Linked DNA regions of Homo sapiens: region 2 is linked to region 1. A link means that fine-mapping ties the variant in region 1 to the expression of a gene that starts in the linked region. Tissue or cell type: whole blood. Region 1 holds a variant in brackets; the other region holds the start of a gene. All regions are shown on one strand. Distances are from middle to middle.

Region 1 (8,000 bases):
ATAGCTTCAGTTATGTTTCTTAGTCTCCATTTGAAAAAAGAAATATTCGCTGGGCATGGTGGCTCACGCCTGTAATCCCAGCACTTTGGGAGGCCAAGGTGGGTGGATTACTTGAGGCCAGGAGTTCCAGACCAGCCTGGCCATCACGGTGAAACCCTGTCTCTATTAAAAATACAAAAATTAGCCAGGTGTGGTGGTGCGCCCTTGTAATCCCAGCTACCTGGGAGGCTGAAGCAAGAGGATTGGTTTCAAGGTTCACCTGGGAGGTCAAAGCTGCATTCAGCCAAGATCACACCATTGTACTCCAGCCTAGGTGACAAAGTGATACCCTGTCTCAAATAAATACATAGACAAAAAGCAAACCTATGAGCTATTTAAAGGACCTTGAGGAGAAAAAAAATAAATGAAATGGGTGATCTAAATTTAAATAGAATCTGCAGCTCTGGTTAGCCTTTGACAGTGTTGTTGTATCATTATAGTTATGAATTTGTTTTCTCAGTTGTGTTAAAGTGGAGTAAGGCAAAAAAGAACTTGAAATCTCAACGACCTCCAGAGAAACATGCTAGCTTTTGCATGAGTAAAATCTCTTAGGCACAAATATTAATAATATGTTAAGAAACTTTAGGCTTAAGCCTAACATAACAGCCCCATAAGTGTTCAGTATTATCTCTAACCAGTTATGTCAACTGTTTGTGGAAATGACAGCCTTTCTTGGCATTAGAGGAATGGTTAAACCTCTGACTCCAGGGAATCACAAAGCTTGGTCAGATGCTGAATGGAATTATGTGTGTTGTTGGAAGCATGTTCCCTATGATTAATAAATGTTTTCAAGTTTTCCACTTAACTTGCCAGTTCTTTGGTTAAGCCACTCTTCTAGTCCTGTCCTACAGAGCAGGCTTAGAGCCCCACATTTGTCATTGTAGAAATTCAAACAATATCCATTAAGTCATTTTTTTTTTTTTTGCCCATTAAGTCTTAAAGGATTAATACATTTTCTTTCCTTTTTTTTTTTTTTTTGAAACGGAGCCTCCCTCTGTCGCCCAGGCTGGAGTTCAGTTGTGCGATCTCGGCTCACTGCAGCCTCTGCCTCCCAGGTTCAAGCGATTCTCCTGCCTTAGTCTCCCGAGTAGTTGGGATTAACAGGGTTGTGCCACCACACCTGGCTAATTTTAGTATTTTAGATAGAGATGGGGTTTCACCATGTTGGTCAGGCTGGTCTCGAACTCCTGACCTCAAGTGATCTGACCACCTAGGCCTCTCAAAGTGTTGGGATTACAGGCATGAACCACCGTGCCTGCCAATACATTTTCTTACAAATATTAATTATTGAAAAAATGTATTTTAAGTAAATATTCAGACTATAAATATATCAGCATAATTGAATACATTATAACCACGTAGGCATGTTAACTGCTTACATGCGTGCATGAAATATTAAGGGAAAAGGGCAGAATATAATATTTGTAAACACAACTATGTATACCTGTGTGTATATATTGAAAAACGTTAGCATTTGGGGTGTCGTAAAAATAAGTTTCTGTTTTCTTTATAAAATTACCTAAATTCATATTCAACTACACACAATTATAAACTTAATTGCAGAGCTAGGTGTGGTGGCTCATGTCTGTATTCCTAGTACTTTGGGAGGCTGAGGCAGGAGGATCCCTTGAGGCCAGGAGTTTGAGACTAGCTTGGGTAACATAGCACGATCTTGTCTCTACAAAAAAAAAAGTGAAAATTAGTGGGGTGTGGTAGTGTGCTTCTATGGTCCCAGCTACTTGGGAAGCTGAGGCAGGAGGATTGCTTGAGACTAGGAGGTCGAGGCTGCAGTGAGCTGTAATCATGCCACTGCACTTCAACCTGGGCAGCAAAGTGAGACCCTGCCTCAAAAAAAGAAAAAAATGTGTGGCAAAAACTGCCATGAACAAAGTCCAAAACAAACTAGGACAAAGGCTTGAAATATATGACAGATATATCCCAATATACATAGAATTCTTATGAAATTAAAAGGAACATGAACAACTTAACTCAGTAGCAAAGGTTACAAGCAATATTTATGGAGTAAGAAATAGAAATGGCAATAAATATATGAAAAGCCTAGTTGATCAGCCTTACTAATAGGGATAAAAATTAAAACTTCACTTCTTACCTATCAGTGAGTTAAAATTGATACACTGCTGCTGAGGTTGTAGGGAAATAGGCTTTCTTGTATGCTGTGTTCTTTGGAGTTAAGTTAGTATTTATTTGGAGGCAAGCTCTTAATTGAATCTACAGATACACATGCCTTTTGGAAATAATTTAGCAATTAAATCTAACCTAATCTGATCTCACCTAGCATTTCACTTCTGAAAGTTTATCCTATAAAAATATTACCATAGAAGTGCCAAGAATTTTTATTGAAGTTTTATTTATAACAGTGAGAATGTGGCAGTAATCTCAATCTTTATCATTAATTGCTTATGGTTTACCCAGTTAGTAGTGTAAAGGTACTAGTTAACAGTAGGGTCTCTTGACTAAACAGTTGGACTTTGAATCTCCATTCTAGAACTTCTTAGCATTATGATCTTTGGCAAATTAACTGGCCTCGCTAAACTTCAGTTTCTTTATCTGTTAAATGAAGTTTATAGCAATTAACTTAGAGTTTTATTTAAATTAAATGAGATAAACTGAATGATTAGTACACTACCTAGCACATACTTGTTCAATAAATATTAACATTTCTTATCAAAATTGCCATATTTAAGAATGAGGTATATTTATATGTCTAGCATAGAATCAAATATATATTATCATTATTATTTTTTTTTTGAGACAGGGTCTCCTTCTATCACCCAGGCTGGAGTATAGTGGTGTGATCATAGCTCAGTGCAGCCTGTAAGTCCTGGGCTCAAGTGATTCTCCCATCTCAGCCTTGTGAATAGCTGGGAGTACAGGTGTGTGCCACCATGCCTGGCTAATTTTTTTTGCTGTTAGTTTCACTTTTTTTGTAGAGCTGGGGTCTCGTTATGTTGCCCAGGCCGGTCTTGAACTCCTGGGCTCAAGCGATTCTCCCGTCTCGGCCTCCTGAAGCATACAGATTTTTTAGGGCAGTGAATCTATTCTGTATGATACTGTAATCATGGAAACCTGTCATTATCTGTTTATACAAACCCATAGACTGTATAACACCAAAAAGTGAACCCTAAGGTAAACTGTGGACTGTCAATGTAGGTTCATCTGTTGTAACGGTTTACCACAGTGGTGCAGGATGTTGATAGAGGCTGTTGGAGGGGTTATGTGGGAACTCTGTGTACTTTCTGCTCAGTTTTGCTGTGGATCTAAGTTTGCATTTAAAAATATTTTATGGCTTGGTGGCTCATACTTGTAATCCTAGCACTTTGGAAGGCTGAGGCGGGTGGATCACTTGAGTTCAGGAGTTTGAGACCAGCCTGGGCAACATGGTGAAACCCCATCTCTATGAAATAAAAAAAAAAGTAAATAATACTAATAGTAATTAACTGGGTGTGGTGGCATGTGCCTATAGTCCCAGGTACTTGGGAGGCTGAGGTCGGAGGATGACTTGAGCCTGTGAAGTGGAAGTTGCAGTGAGCAGTGATCATGCCACTGCACTCCAGCCTGGGCAACACAGCCAGACTCGGTCTCAAAAAATAATAATAATAAAATAAATAATATAAATAAAAATAATATTTTGAAAGAAAAGAGCTATCAAGCCACAAATGCAAAAGGCTTCAAGTTCCTATCTTTTAGAAATACATACTAAAATATTTATGAAGGAAATGATATATCTAAGATTTGCCTCAAAATAATACTGGAGTGGCAAAGTGAGCGGGGGAGTAGATGAAACAAGATTAGCATGAGTTCATAATTATTGAAGTTGAATAAATTGCACATGGGCTTCATTGTACATTTCTGACAGTATTTGTTTGAACTTTTTCCATAATAAAAAGTTTTGTTTGTTTTTTTTTTTGAGATGGAGTCTTGCTCTGTCACCCAGGCTGGAGTGCAGTGGCATGATCTCGGCTCACTGCAAGCTCCGCCTCCCAGGTTCACGCCATTCTCCTGCCTCAGCCTCCAGAGTAGCTGCGACTACAGGCGTCCGCCACCATGCCCAGCTAATTTTTTGTAATTTTAGTAGAGATGGGGTTTCACTGTGTTAGCCAGGATGATCTCGATCTCCTGACCTTGTGATCCGCCCGCCTGGGACTCCCAAAGTGCTGGGATTACAGGCATGAGCCACCACGCCTGGCCTTTTTTTTAAAATGGTCTTACAGGTAATACCATGCATGCTTAAGTCATCATTCTCATATTTAGCTACCAAGATTTTTCCTTTCGGAAATCCCTCAGTATTCTAGTACCACTTTCCTCTCATTTGACACTTTTCAAAGCACCTACACACTCCCTTGAGAAAGATA[C/T]CTTTTTTTTTTTTTGCGAGGGAGTTTCACTCTTTTGTTGCCCAGGCTGGAGTGCAGTGGCATGATCTTGGCTCACTGCAACGTCTGCCTCCTGGGTTCAAGCGATTCTCCTGCCTCAGCCTCCTGAGTAGCTGGGATTACAGGCACGCACCACCACACCCAGCTAATTTTTTTGTATACTTTTTTTTTTTTAAGTACAGATGGGGTTTCACCGTGTTGGCCAGGCTGGGCTCAAACTTCTGACTTCAGATGATCCGCCTGCCTCGATCTCCCAAAGTGCTGGGATTACAGGCGTGAGTCACCACGCCCAGCCCAAGAAAGATACATTTTTAAAAACAGCTTTATTGTGGTATAATTGACGTAAAATGTACATACTTAAAGTATACAGTGTGATGTTTTGATATATATGTATACTCTTGAAACCACCACCACAGTTAAAATAATGAAAATGTCCATTACCTCCAGAAGTTTCTTCATGTTTTGTTGTAATCTCTCCTTCTCCTCCCTGATTCCTCCCCATCCCCAGGCAACCATGTTTTGTCACCGCGCGCAGCCATTTACTATTATGATACTATTTTATATAAATAGTATCATACAGGCCGGGCACGGTGGCTCATGCCTGTAATCCCAGCACTTTGGGAGGTCGAGGTGGGCGATGACTTGAGGCCACCTGGCCAACATGAAACCCCTTCTCTATTAAAAATGCAAAAATTAGCCAGGGGTGGTGGCGTGCACCTGTAATCTCAGCTCCTCAGGAGGCTGAGACATGAGGATTGCTTGAACCCAGGAGGCAGAGGTTGCAGTGAGCTGAGATTGTGCCACTGCACTCCAGCCTGGGCAACAGAGTGAGTCTCTGTCTAAAAAAAAAACAAAACATACAGACTCTTGTCTGGCTTCTTTCTTTCAGCATAATTATTTTGAAATTCGTCCATGTTATGTGGTTCCTTTTTATTGCTGAGTTGTATACCACAGTTTTTGATCTATTTACTTGTTGGTAGATATTTGGATTTTCAGTTCTGAAGCATTACAGATAGTGGCTGTTACGGATATTCATGTACAGATCTTTCTTTGTATGGGCATATGCTTTAATTTATCTTGGGCAAATACCTAGGAGTAGAATATGATCCAATATGGTAGGTGTATATTTAACTTTTTTTTCTATCTATCTATCTATCTATCTATCTATCTATCTATCTATCTATCTATCTATTTTTAAGACGGAGTTTTGCTCCATCTGGAGCAAAGGCTGGAGTGCAGTGGCATGATCTTGGCTCACTGCAACCTCTGCCTCCTGGGTTCAAGTGATTCTCCTGTCCCAGCCTCCCCAGTAGCTGGGATTACAGGCGCCTGCCACCACACCCAGCTAATTTTTGTATTTGTAGTAGAGGCTAGGTTTCTTCATGTTGGCCAGGCTGGTCTTGAACTACTGATCTCAAGTGATCTGCCTCGGCCCCCCAAAGTGTTGGGATTACAGGCGTGAGCCATCACACCTGGCCAGTTTTTATTTATATTTTTTATAGAAGATGGAGTCTTCCTATGTTTCACAGGCTGATCTTGAACTCCAGGCCTCAAGTGATCCTCCCGCCTTGGCTTCCCAAAGTGCTGGGATTATAGGCATGAGCCTCTATGCCCAGCCTTATATTTAACTTTTTAAGGTACTACCAAAGAACTTTCCAAACTGGTTGTATAATTTTACATTTCTACCAGCAGTATGAGTTCCAGTTCCTCCACATCCTGTCAGTACTTGATACTGTCAGTCTTTTAAATTTTTTAGCTCTTATAAAAAGGTATATAGTTACATCTCATTTTGGTTTTAATTTACATTTCTCTATTGAGTAATGATGTTGAGTTTCTTTTCATGTGCTTGTCATCCTGATATCTTTGGTGACTTGTCTGTTCAAATCTCTTGCCCATTTAAAAATTGCTTTCTTAATGGATTTTAAGAATTATTTACATAGTCTGGATACAAGTCCTCTGTAATATATATAATTTGCAAGTGTTTTCTCCCAGACTGTGGCTTTTCTTTTTATTAACAGTGCTTTTTGAAGGGCAGATTTTTTTTTTTTTTTTTAAAGAGACAGAGTCTTGCCCTGTCACCCAGGCTGGAGTATAGTGGTGTGATTATAGCTCACTGCAGCCTCAAACTCCTGAGCTCAAAGAATTCTTCTGCCTCATTCTTCCAAACAGCTAGGACTACAGATGTGTGCCACTGCACCCAGCTAATTCCGTTTGTATTTCATTGATTGTGTTTTTGGTGTCACATCTTAAGAAACTTTGGCCTACTTCAAGTTCTCAGGAGTTTTTTCCTGCATTTTCTTCTGGAAGCTTTATAGTTTCATGTTTTACATTAGGTCTGTGATCCTTTTGAAGTTGATTGTTATACGTGGTCCAAGGTATGGATCAAAGTTCATTTTTCTGCATATGGATATTCAATTGTTTCAGCACTGTTTTTTAAAAAAGACTATTTTCTCCACTGAAGTGCCTTTGTACCTTTGCAAAAATCAGTTGTCCATATATGTGTCAATCTGTTCCATCAGTCATGGGTCAAAGGCTGTTCTCATGGGGAGGCTTTTGAATTTGAAAAACTGAAACTCTATACTCATTGGACAACTTTATACCCATTGAACAACTCCCCATTTTCCATTTCTCTCAGCCCGTGGCAATATGCTTTCTGTTTCTATAACATGGACTACTTGAGTTTTTTTCTTTTTTTTGATGACAAGATCTCACTCCGTTGCCCAGGCTAGAGTGCAGTGGCATGATCTTGGCTCATGGCAGCCTTCACCTCCTGGGCTCAAGCTGTCTTCCCACCTCAGCCTCCTGAGTAACTGGAACTACAGGTGCACTCTATCATGCCTCGCTAATTTTTTAATTTTTTTGTAGAGACGAGTTCTCGCCATATTGGCCAGGCTGATCTCAAACTCCTGGGCTCAAGTAATCCTCCCACTTTGGCCTCCCAAAATACAGAGATTATGGGTGTGAGCCATCATGCCCAGCTGGCTAGATATTTCATGTAAGTGGAATCATACATTATTTCTCTTTTAGTGACTTGCTTATTTTGCTTAGCATAATGTCCTCAAGGTTCATCTATATTGTAGCATGTGACAAGATTTCCTTTTTAAGGGCTGAATAATATTCTGTGTTATGTATATACCACATATCTGTGAGTAGACATTTGGGTTACTTCCACTTCGTGGCTATACTGAATAATGCTATGGTGAAAGTGGCTATGCACATATCTGTTTGAGGTCTTGTTTGTAATTCAGTTCGTTTTTATATATACTCATTGGTATTTATATAAATGGGATTGCTGGGTCATATGGTAGTTTAATTTTTTGAGGAACCTCCATATTGTTTTCCATGGTGGCTGCACCATTTTACATTCCCACCAACAATGCATAGTGGTTCCAATTTCTTCACAACTTTACCACCGCTTGTTACTTTCTGTTTTTTGGTAGTGGCCATCCTAACGGGTGTAGTTTTTTTTTGCATTTTTCTAATGATTAGTGATGTTGAGCATCTTTTCTTTTTTCCCCCCATATTACACAGATGTAGAGCATCTTTTCATGTGCTTGTTGGCTATTTGTA
Region 2 (8,000 bases), 230 kb before region 1:
AAATACAAACTAAAAGTATTCCAGACTGATGACACATCAAGTCAGTGGTTACCCTCAGGAAAAGAAAAAGAAAAATTCTGTAGTTGGAAGTTTTCTATTAGTTTGTGATTGTTTTCAAAAACAATTTTCTTAAAATGTACTTACATTCCCAGCACCTAGAACAGATCTGGCATTCCAAGTGCTCAATAAATATTTGTTGAATTAATAACTGAAAGATATAAACAGTTAGAACAAACACATGCTTAGAAAAAACACATCCAAATATTAACAGTGGTTTTTTTGGAGGGATAGATTTATCACAGGTAATTTGGGTATTTTTTCACTTTGTGCTTTTCTGCTTCTCAAGTTTTCTTAGATTATTATGCATTATTAACTGTTATATTGGTCAGGCTGCTAACCAGCTAAGACTAGTATTTTAGAGGCAAAATCTTGTCCCCAGATTTATGGGTTTCAACATTTTGTGTATTAAGTTATTGGGACCAGATCCTTGGAAACTGCTTGTCTACCCAAGTACACAGAATACGAATATGATCAGTTAATTATTGAGACATGTAACTTCCTGATGTCTAGAATATTCTTGCCCATTACCCACGGCTCCCTCTTTTCCAAAATCATGATAATGGAGTCAGTCATCAGCAGTTTGGTGAATACGTAATCATACAAAGAGGTGTAGAGAATTTTGTTGGGTATTTCATTAGGTTAGCAAAGGAACTAGAGGCTAGGGCGCGATGGTTCACGCCTGTAATTCCAGCACTTTGGGAGGCCAAGGCGGGTGGATCACCTGAGGTCAGGAGTTCAAGACCAGCCTGACTAACATGGTGAAACTCTGGCTGTACTAAAAATACAAAAATTAGCTGGGCGTGGTGGCGGGAGCCTGTAATCCCAGCTATTCGGGAGGCTGAGGCAGGAGAATTACTTGAACCCAGCAAGCAGAGGTTGCAGTGAGCCGAGACGGCGCCATTGCACTCCAGCCTGGGCAACAGAGCAAGACTCCATCTCAAAAAAAAAAAAAAGGAAATGAACTAGGGAATTGTTCTATATCAAGATTTTCAGTGACCAGCCAGATGCAGTGGCTCACGCTTGTAATCCCAGCACTTTGGGAGGCTGAGGCGGGCGGATCACCTGAGTTTGGGAGTTCGAGACCAGCCTGACCAACATGGAGAAACCCCATCTCTACTAAAAACACAAAATTAGCCGGGCGTGGTGGCACATGCCTGTAGTCCCAGCTACTCGGGAGGCTGAGGCAGGAGAATCACTTGAACTCAGGAGGCGAAGGTTGCAGTGAGCCAAGATCATGCCATTGCACTCCAGCTTGGGCAACAAGAGCAAAACTCCATCTCAAAAAAAAAAAAGATTAAGATTTTCAGTGACCAAGACACTCACTTGGATACTACTGAAAAAACACTGAGAAATTCTGATGAAAATGATCCTTTTTCTAGGCCCTGGATGGACTGTTACCCCACAATGGGCATGTTAATTTAATTACATTTCTCTTGCATTGATTTTATTTTGGATTAGTCTCCATGATGTGATTTGACAGGCATCCTAGTTCCTGTGGCAACTTACGTACAAGTCACCTCTTAAAATAGCCAACTCCTGCTGGGTGCAGTGGTTCACGCCTGTAATTCCAATACTTCAGGAGGCTGAGGCAGGAGGATCACTTGAGCCCAGGAGTTTGAGACCAGGCTGGGCAATATAGTAAGACCCTATCTCTATAAGAAAAAAAAGTGTTTTTTTATTTTTTTTTTTTTTATTTTTGAGATGGAGTCTTGCTCTGTTGCCCAGGCTGAAGTGCAGTGGCACGATCTCTGCTCACTGAAAGCTCCGCCTCCTGGGTTCACGCCATTCTCCTGCCTCAGCCTCCCGAGTAGCTGGGACTACAGGCGCCCGCCACCACGCCTGGCTAATTTTTTGTATTTTTAGTAGAGATGGGGTTTCACCATGTTAGCCAGGATGGTCTCGATCTCCTGACCTCATGATCCACCCACCTCTCCCTCCCAAAGTGCTGGGATTACAGGCATGACCCACCACGCCCAGCCTGTTTTTTCTTTTTTTAAAAGGACAACTTCTGCAGTTGATTTAAACAAATGTTGATTTGTTTAAATTAACATTTAAATTTTATATTTTGGGGGATGGGAGGATGTGGGGATGGCTAATGGGTACAAAAACATAGTTTGAAAGAATGAATAAGATCTAGTATTTGAAGGCCGGGTGCAGTGGTTCACGCCTGTAATCCCAGCACTTTGGGAGGCCAAGGCGGGCAGATCACCTGAGGTCAGGATTTCAAGACCAGCCTGGCCAACATGGCAAAAGCCCATCTCTACTAAAAATACAAAAAATTAGCCAGGCATGGTGGAGGGCGCCTGTAATCTCAGCTACTTGGGAGGCTGAGGCAGGAGAATAGCTTGAACCTGGGAGGCAGAGGTTGCAGTGAGCCGAGATCACGCCACTGTACTCCAGCCTGGCAACAGAGTGAGACTCCATCTCAAAACAGACAAAAAATATATATATATTGTTTTAGTCTTTGCCATGTGCCAGATATTTTCCAACCTCTTTCTATAGATTCATTCCTTTTCATTACAACATTTGCCTTGGCTTCAAATTCTGGAGATGAAATGAAAAAATAATTTTTACTTTTGAAGGTAATATACACCATCTAGATACCATGCTACCTTTATAATCGCGGGTGCTTAACCAATGGGCGCTGTGCACCAAGTCCTGGGTGAGGTACTCCATCATCAGCGCTTACTCCTTACAACCTTTCTCAGTAGATGTCTTATCCTCATTCTAATCTGTGAAGAAACTGAGGTTGGAATGCCTCATGACTTGCCCAAGGCCCAGCAAGCTTCATTTGTTCACTGATTTGCAAACATTCTTTAATCTTTCATCTGTGTGTGTTGCAGGTCCCCGAGGTATATCTCATGCCCACGTCACTGTCCCCTCTGTGGACATTCAACAGAGCCTGCTGGCCGGCTGCCAGCCACTCATTGACTCAGCAAGCCCAAGCCAACTCCTCCTGCCACCTTCCTCAAGTGTCCCCTGGCTCTTCAGTGGAAAATCCAGCTTGACTCCTCCCCGAGAGTTAAGTCTGGCCGATTCTCCCTCTGAATTCTGCCTCCCATCTGTACCCCCCTTCCATCCTGGCTACCCCCACCCTGGTTTGGCCCTCACTACCTTTCACAAGGACTGTTGCTGCAATAAGTTCCTTAGGGGTCTCCCAGCTGACTTCCACAATCTTTTCTCCCCAACCCCCTACACGGTGATTTCCCAGAAGCACAGCTCTAGTCCTGTCACTTCCCAACTCTAGAACCCTCAGAGCCTCCCATTGTCTACTTTTTTTTTTCTTGAGACAGGGTCTCACTCTGTCACCCAGGCTGGAGTGCAATGGCGCTATCTCGGCTCACTGCAACCCCCGCCTCCCGGGTTCAAGCAATTCTCCTGCCTCAGCCTCCTGAGTAGCTGGGATTACAGGCGCCCGCCACCACGCCCGGCTAATTTTTTGTATTTTTAGTAGAGTTGGGGGTTTCGCCATGTTGGCCAGGCTGGTCTGGAACTCCTAGCCTCAAGTGATCCACCCGCCTCAACCTCCCAATGTGCTGGGATTTCAGGCGTGAGCCACTGCACCCGGCCTGACTACTCTTTCCCTGGCAATTGCTGCGTCACCAAGCCCCAACCCACCCTGCTGAGTTTTCCTTCCAAGACTCCCCTCCCATCCAGCCGGCTTGAACCGGCCTCCAGTCACGTTGTTTGTTCAGCTAGAATTTTTCTCTGCCTTCTCTTCAAGGCCGCTCAAGCTTCATGAAGCGGTTCTTTATTCTGACTATGCCCACTTCTCTCATTTCCCTCATCACCCGGCCCCGCTCCACATACTGCATTTATCTATAAACTCCTGAGAGCCAGGAGTTTAGCCTGAAATCCTAGCTTCCTGGTTAAGAGCTGAAATGCCTTCGCACGGCGTGCAATGGGTGAACCCCACCGCCTGCTTTCTAACGGGTCCAAGCCGCGGGCAGGGGCCTGTGTTACGGAGCCGCATGACACACCAGGCCTACTGCTGGACCCCAACAAGCCTAGCCTCTGTGAATCCAGCTGTCCTCACAAACTGTCTCTTCGGGACACAAGCCCATCAGAGGCTTCCGTTTTCCTTTCATAAGATCTCATAACCGTCAGCTGATACCTGGGACAGGCACAGCACACATAGGTCATTCTAGAAATATTGGTGGTCTGAACAAACTCTAAGCTGGAGAGGACATGAGAATGATAGATCCGATTCCTTCTCTCAACAGAAGAAATCAAGGCACAGAGAAGGGAAGAGACTCGCCCTAGGTCCCACAGCAAGCAGCAGTACTGGAGCCAACACGGAGGCCCCCCGGTTTCACGGTCAGGGCTCGCTACGCTACACCCTGAACGCAGACCCAGGGCAGCGGCCTCGGCCGCCTGAGGCCACTGCCGAAGACTTCGCCGCCAGTCGTAACATCACGTTACTTCTGTCCCTCGCCTCACAGACTCCTTCGCTCTTTCCACTACAGCGAGAGGACTTCTCCAGGGCCGCATCACCCTGCGGAGGGAGGAAGACACGGTCTCTCACGAAAGGGTCTCCAGACAGTTCCGCTGCTCCGGGAGCAGCCCCCGGCCCCGCCCCCGCGTGCGCCTGGCCCCACCCCCAAGCGCTCCATGACCAGCCTCCACGTGCATCCGCCCCAGACAGGCCAGGCCTGGGAGGAGCCGAAGCCCCACTCCCCGCCTTCTTCATGAGATCGTCCCTATTGACGTCGACAGACAGAAGCCGCGTCCAGTGAGAAGGAAAGAACGGCCGCTATAGCCCTATCGGCTGCTACAACACCAAAACGCATCCACCTAACTGGCTGACGCTACACCTTGGTCTTTCCGGGTCCTTGCACGCTTCGCTCCAACTCCTGCAGAGCTGAGCCGGAGGGGAATCCGGAAGGGACACGCTGAACAGGTAAGACTGTGCTGCCTGGGGTGCCTACTGGCATCGATTCGAGGGCTGCCGCGCTCCCGCTGCAGAGCTCGGGGTGGGAGACAGGCGCGGCGAGGAAGGCCAGGGAAAGGGGCGGGGAGGGGCGGGGAGGAGTGAGCACGTGGAACGCCGGCGCCACCGGGCCTAGGTGGCAGCTGGGCCGGCGCGCTCCGCCCGTTCTGGGGCGCGTGGGGCCCTCCGGCCGGATCAGTGCTGCAACCGTAAACACGCAGGGAGGGCACCCCGAGTGTCGCCGCTGAGGGCGTTTCTCTAAGCGCTTCTCTGAGACCTGCTGCTGAAGGCCCCACCCGACACCTGGCGGGGGCTGGGCTGCGGGCCTTGGGGCGGTGTCCCCTGTGAATGTTCAGGTCAGCATAACAGGTTAGGTGTGGTTGAAGCTTACGAAGTGGCCGGCTCTGTGCTGCCGGCTTCACAGGCGCTAACATTTGCCAGCGCTATGATGTCCTTGTCAGACGCAGAAAGGGGTGCAGTTTGGTTGTCCGTCGGGGTAGCGCACAACTAGCAAGTGATGGGGCCTGGGTTTGGCCCTCGCCTCCACTCTGAGTTGTGAGTTAGCGAGAAAGCCACGCCTCGTGGGCTCCCCGGGGGCTTCAGAAACCATGACGCCTTTCACCATGGTGTTCTACAGGCATTGTCTTGTGACTCCAGCAGCGCAGCCAGAAGCAAAGAAAACTGAGGGGACGGCTTCCTAGAGGAAACAATTCCAAAGTCCCAAACTCTGATTTTAAATAACGATGGAAATTAGAGTCGCGGTGGTGTTCTTTTTTTTTTTTTTTTTTTTTTTTTTTTGAGGCGGAGTCTCGCTGTCGCCCAGGCTGGAGTGCAGTGGCACGATCTCGACTCACTGCAGCCTCCGCCCCCGGGGTTCACGCCATTCTCCTGCCTCAGCTTCCCGCGTAGCTGGGGCTACAGGCGACCACCACCTCGCCCGGCTAATTTTTTGTATTTTTAGTAGAGACGGGGTTTCACCGTGTTAGCCAGGATGGTCTCGATCTCCTGACCTCGTGATCCGCCCGCCTCGGCCTCCCAAAGTGCTGGGATTACAGGCGTGAGCCACCGCGCCCGGCCTGAGGTGGTGTTCTGTGGGTAACCAGGCCTGGGGGTCCTACCAACAGAGGTGGAATCCCTGTTCCACCATTTAACTTACGCTGGGTGTGGTACCTAGTCCTGTAAGCCTGTTTCCTCATTTGTAAAATAGGATTGAAAATACCAACTCAGGGTGGGCGTTAGTACAAAGCTTGCGCCTGAAGTATTTCTTAAATAAGTGTTAAGAGAAAATTTTGTTGTTTTTTAAGTCAGCTGTCTAAAATGTTGTTTTACAGTGAACAACTCCTAACTGCTGGGATTATAGGCATGCACCACCACACCCGGCTAATTTTTAAATTATTTGTTAAGATGGGGCGGAGGGGTGTCTCACTATGTTGCCCAGGCTGGTCTTGAACTCCTGGGCTCAAGCTATCCTCCCACCTCAGCCTCCCAAAGTGCTGGGATTAGAGGCGTGAGCCACCGCCCTGGCCTGTAGAAGCTACTTTGTATTCAGCTTTACAGACCAGTGGCGTTAGCGTTTTGCACATTACAGCCCGCTAGTCTACAGAATCCCCCCACTTTTTTTTTTTTTTTTTTTTTTTGATACGGAATTTCACTATTGTTGCCCAGGCTGGAGCACAGTGGCGCGATCTCGGCTCACCGCAACCTCCGCCTCCCAGGTTTAAGGGATTCTCCTGCTTCAGCCTCCCGAGTAGCTGAGACTACGGGCGCACGCCACCGCGCCCGGCTAACTTTTTGTATTTTAGTAGAGACAGGTTTTCACCATGTTGGCCAGGATGGTCTCACATATCTGCCGACCTCGTGATCCGCCCGCCTCGGCCTCCCAAAGTGCTGGGATTACAGGCATGAGCCACCGCGCCCGGCCAGTCTACAGACTCTTACAAAATTCCCCTGTTGTTGGATATCTAGGATGTTTCTCACTTTAACTATTACAGCATGGTGTAGTAAACATCCTTTATATATATATATATATATATATATATATATAGTTCACATACCCTAAAATTAACTTTTTTAAAAGGGTTCAATCCAGTGGGTTTTTTTATTATTATATTGGCAAGATTGTGCAACCATCACCACTGTCTAATTCTGGAACATTCTCATCCACCCAAGAAGCAACCCCGCGGCCCCAGGGTGCCCCAGTCTCAGAGCCCCGGTTGTTGGGCTCCAGTCCAGGCCCCCTAACCATGTGCTAAACAAGATGGTGAGGCTCAGCCTGGAAACCAGAACAGCCCCGAGGCCCCCAAACTGGAGAGCCCCAAGGGGAGATGGAGCCCCTCCCCCATTCTGAGTTTTGGCCCCGTGCTAAGGCTGGACCGACCCCCTGTGCTGTCAAGCCTACCTCCCAGGGGAGGCGAGGCCAGCCCCGATGTGTGCGGGCTGCCATCCCCCACACTTGGCTCCGGGGCTGGTCGGTGTTGGGCGTCCCAGCACTGCGGGCGGCACGGACGCCCGGGGCTGCTCCCTACTGGGTGTAGCGCACCCCGCCCCCCACCCCGCCCGGCCTCCTCTGGGCCTGCGCCTTGGGCCTATTGAGGCCAGGCCTGGAATGGTGCCCTGGAAGCAGGAAAGAGCCTGTAATTCCGGAAGCTGCGGGCTCCCAAACCAGACACCATTTTGGAGACCGGTGCAAAAATGTGTGCCGCTTTTGTGTGGAAAACTGCTAGACTGTGAGAGAGAGCCGACCTCCTCATGCATGAACCTTTATAGAGGGTGGTCCACATATTCTGTGCACTACATACACATACGCTGGGCACATACTGGCTCTCTGTGTTAAATCTCAGATTTGCTGCCGCGCGTGGTGGCTCACGCCTGTCATCCCAACGCTGCGCCAAGGCAGGAGGATCGCTGGAGGCCAGAAATTCGAGACCAGCCTGGGCGGCAACAAAGCGAGACCCCGTCTCTACAAAAATATTTTTTATTTTTATTTTATTTTTCCGTCAAGCTGTTCTTT

What was found. PIP is the estimated chance that this variant, and not a neighbour inherited with it, causes the effect.
Region 2: DCAF4 starts here. The variant in region 1 is fine-mapped to the expression of DCAF4 in whole blood (INTERVAL, PIP above 0.99).

What each region holds. Positions count from the first base shown.
Region 1 is chr14:73,152,714-73,160,713 of GRCh38, forward strand. All of the region lies in intron 3 of PSEN1 (presenilin 1), which reads left to right. Among named protein-coding and RNA genes, the nearest start is that of PSEN1, 20 kb to the left of the region's middle. The variant C/T (reference allele first, on the strand shown) is at 4,413.
Region 2 is chr14:72,921,584-72,929,583 of GRCh38, forward strand. It overlaps DCAF4 (DDB1 and CUL4 associated factor 4), which reads left to right and starts at 4,881. Exons shown (of 14, transcript NM_015604.4): 1 at 4,881-4,960. It also overlaps the pseudogene RPL36P3. RefSeq lists enhancers at 2,993-3,859, 4,260-4,359, 4,650-4,919, 5,591-6,455 and a silencer at 5,090-5,149.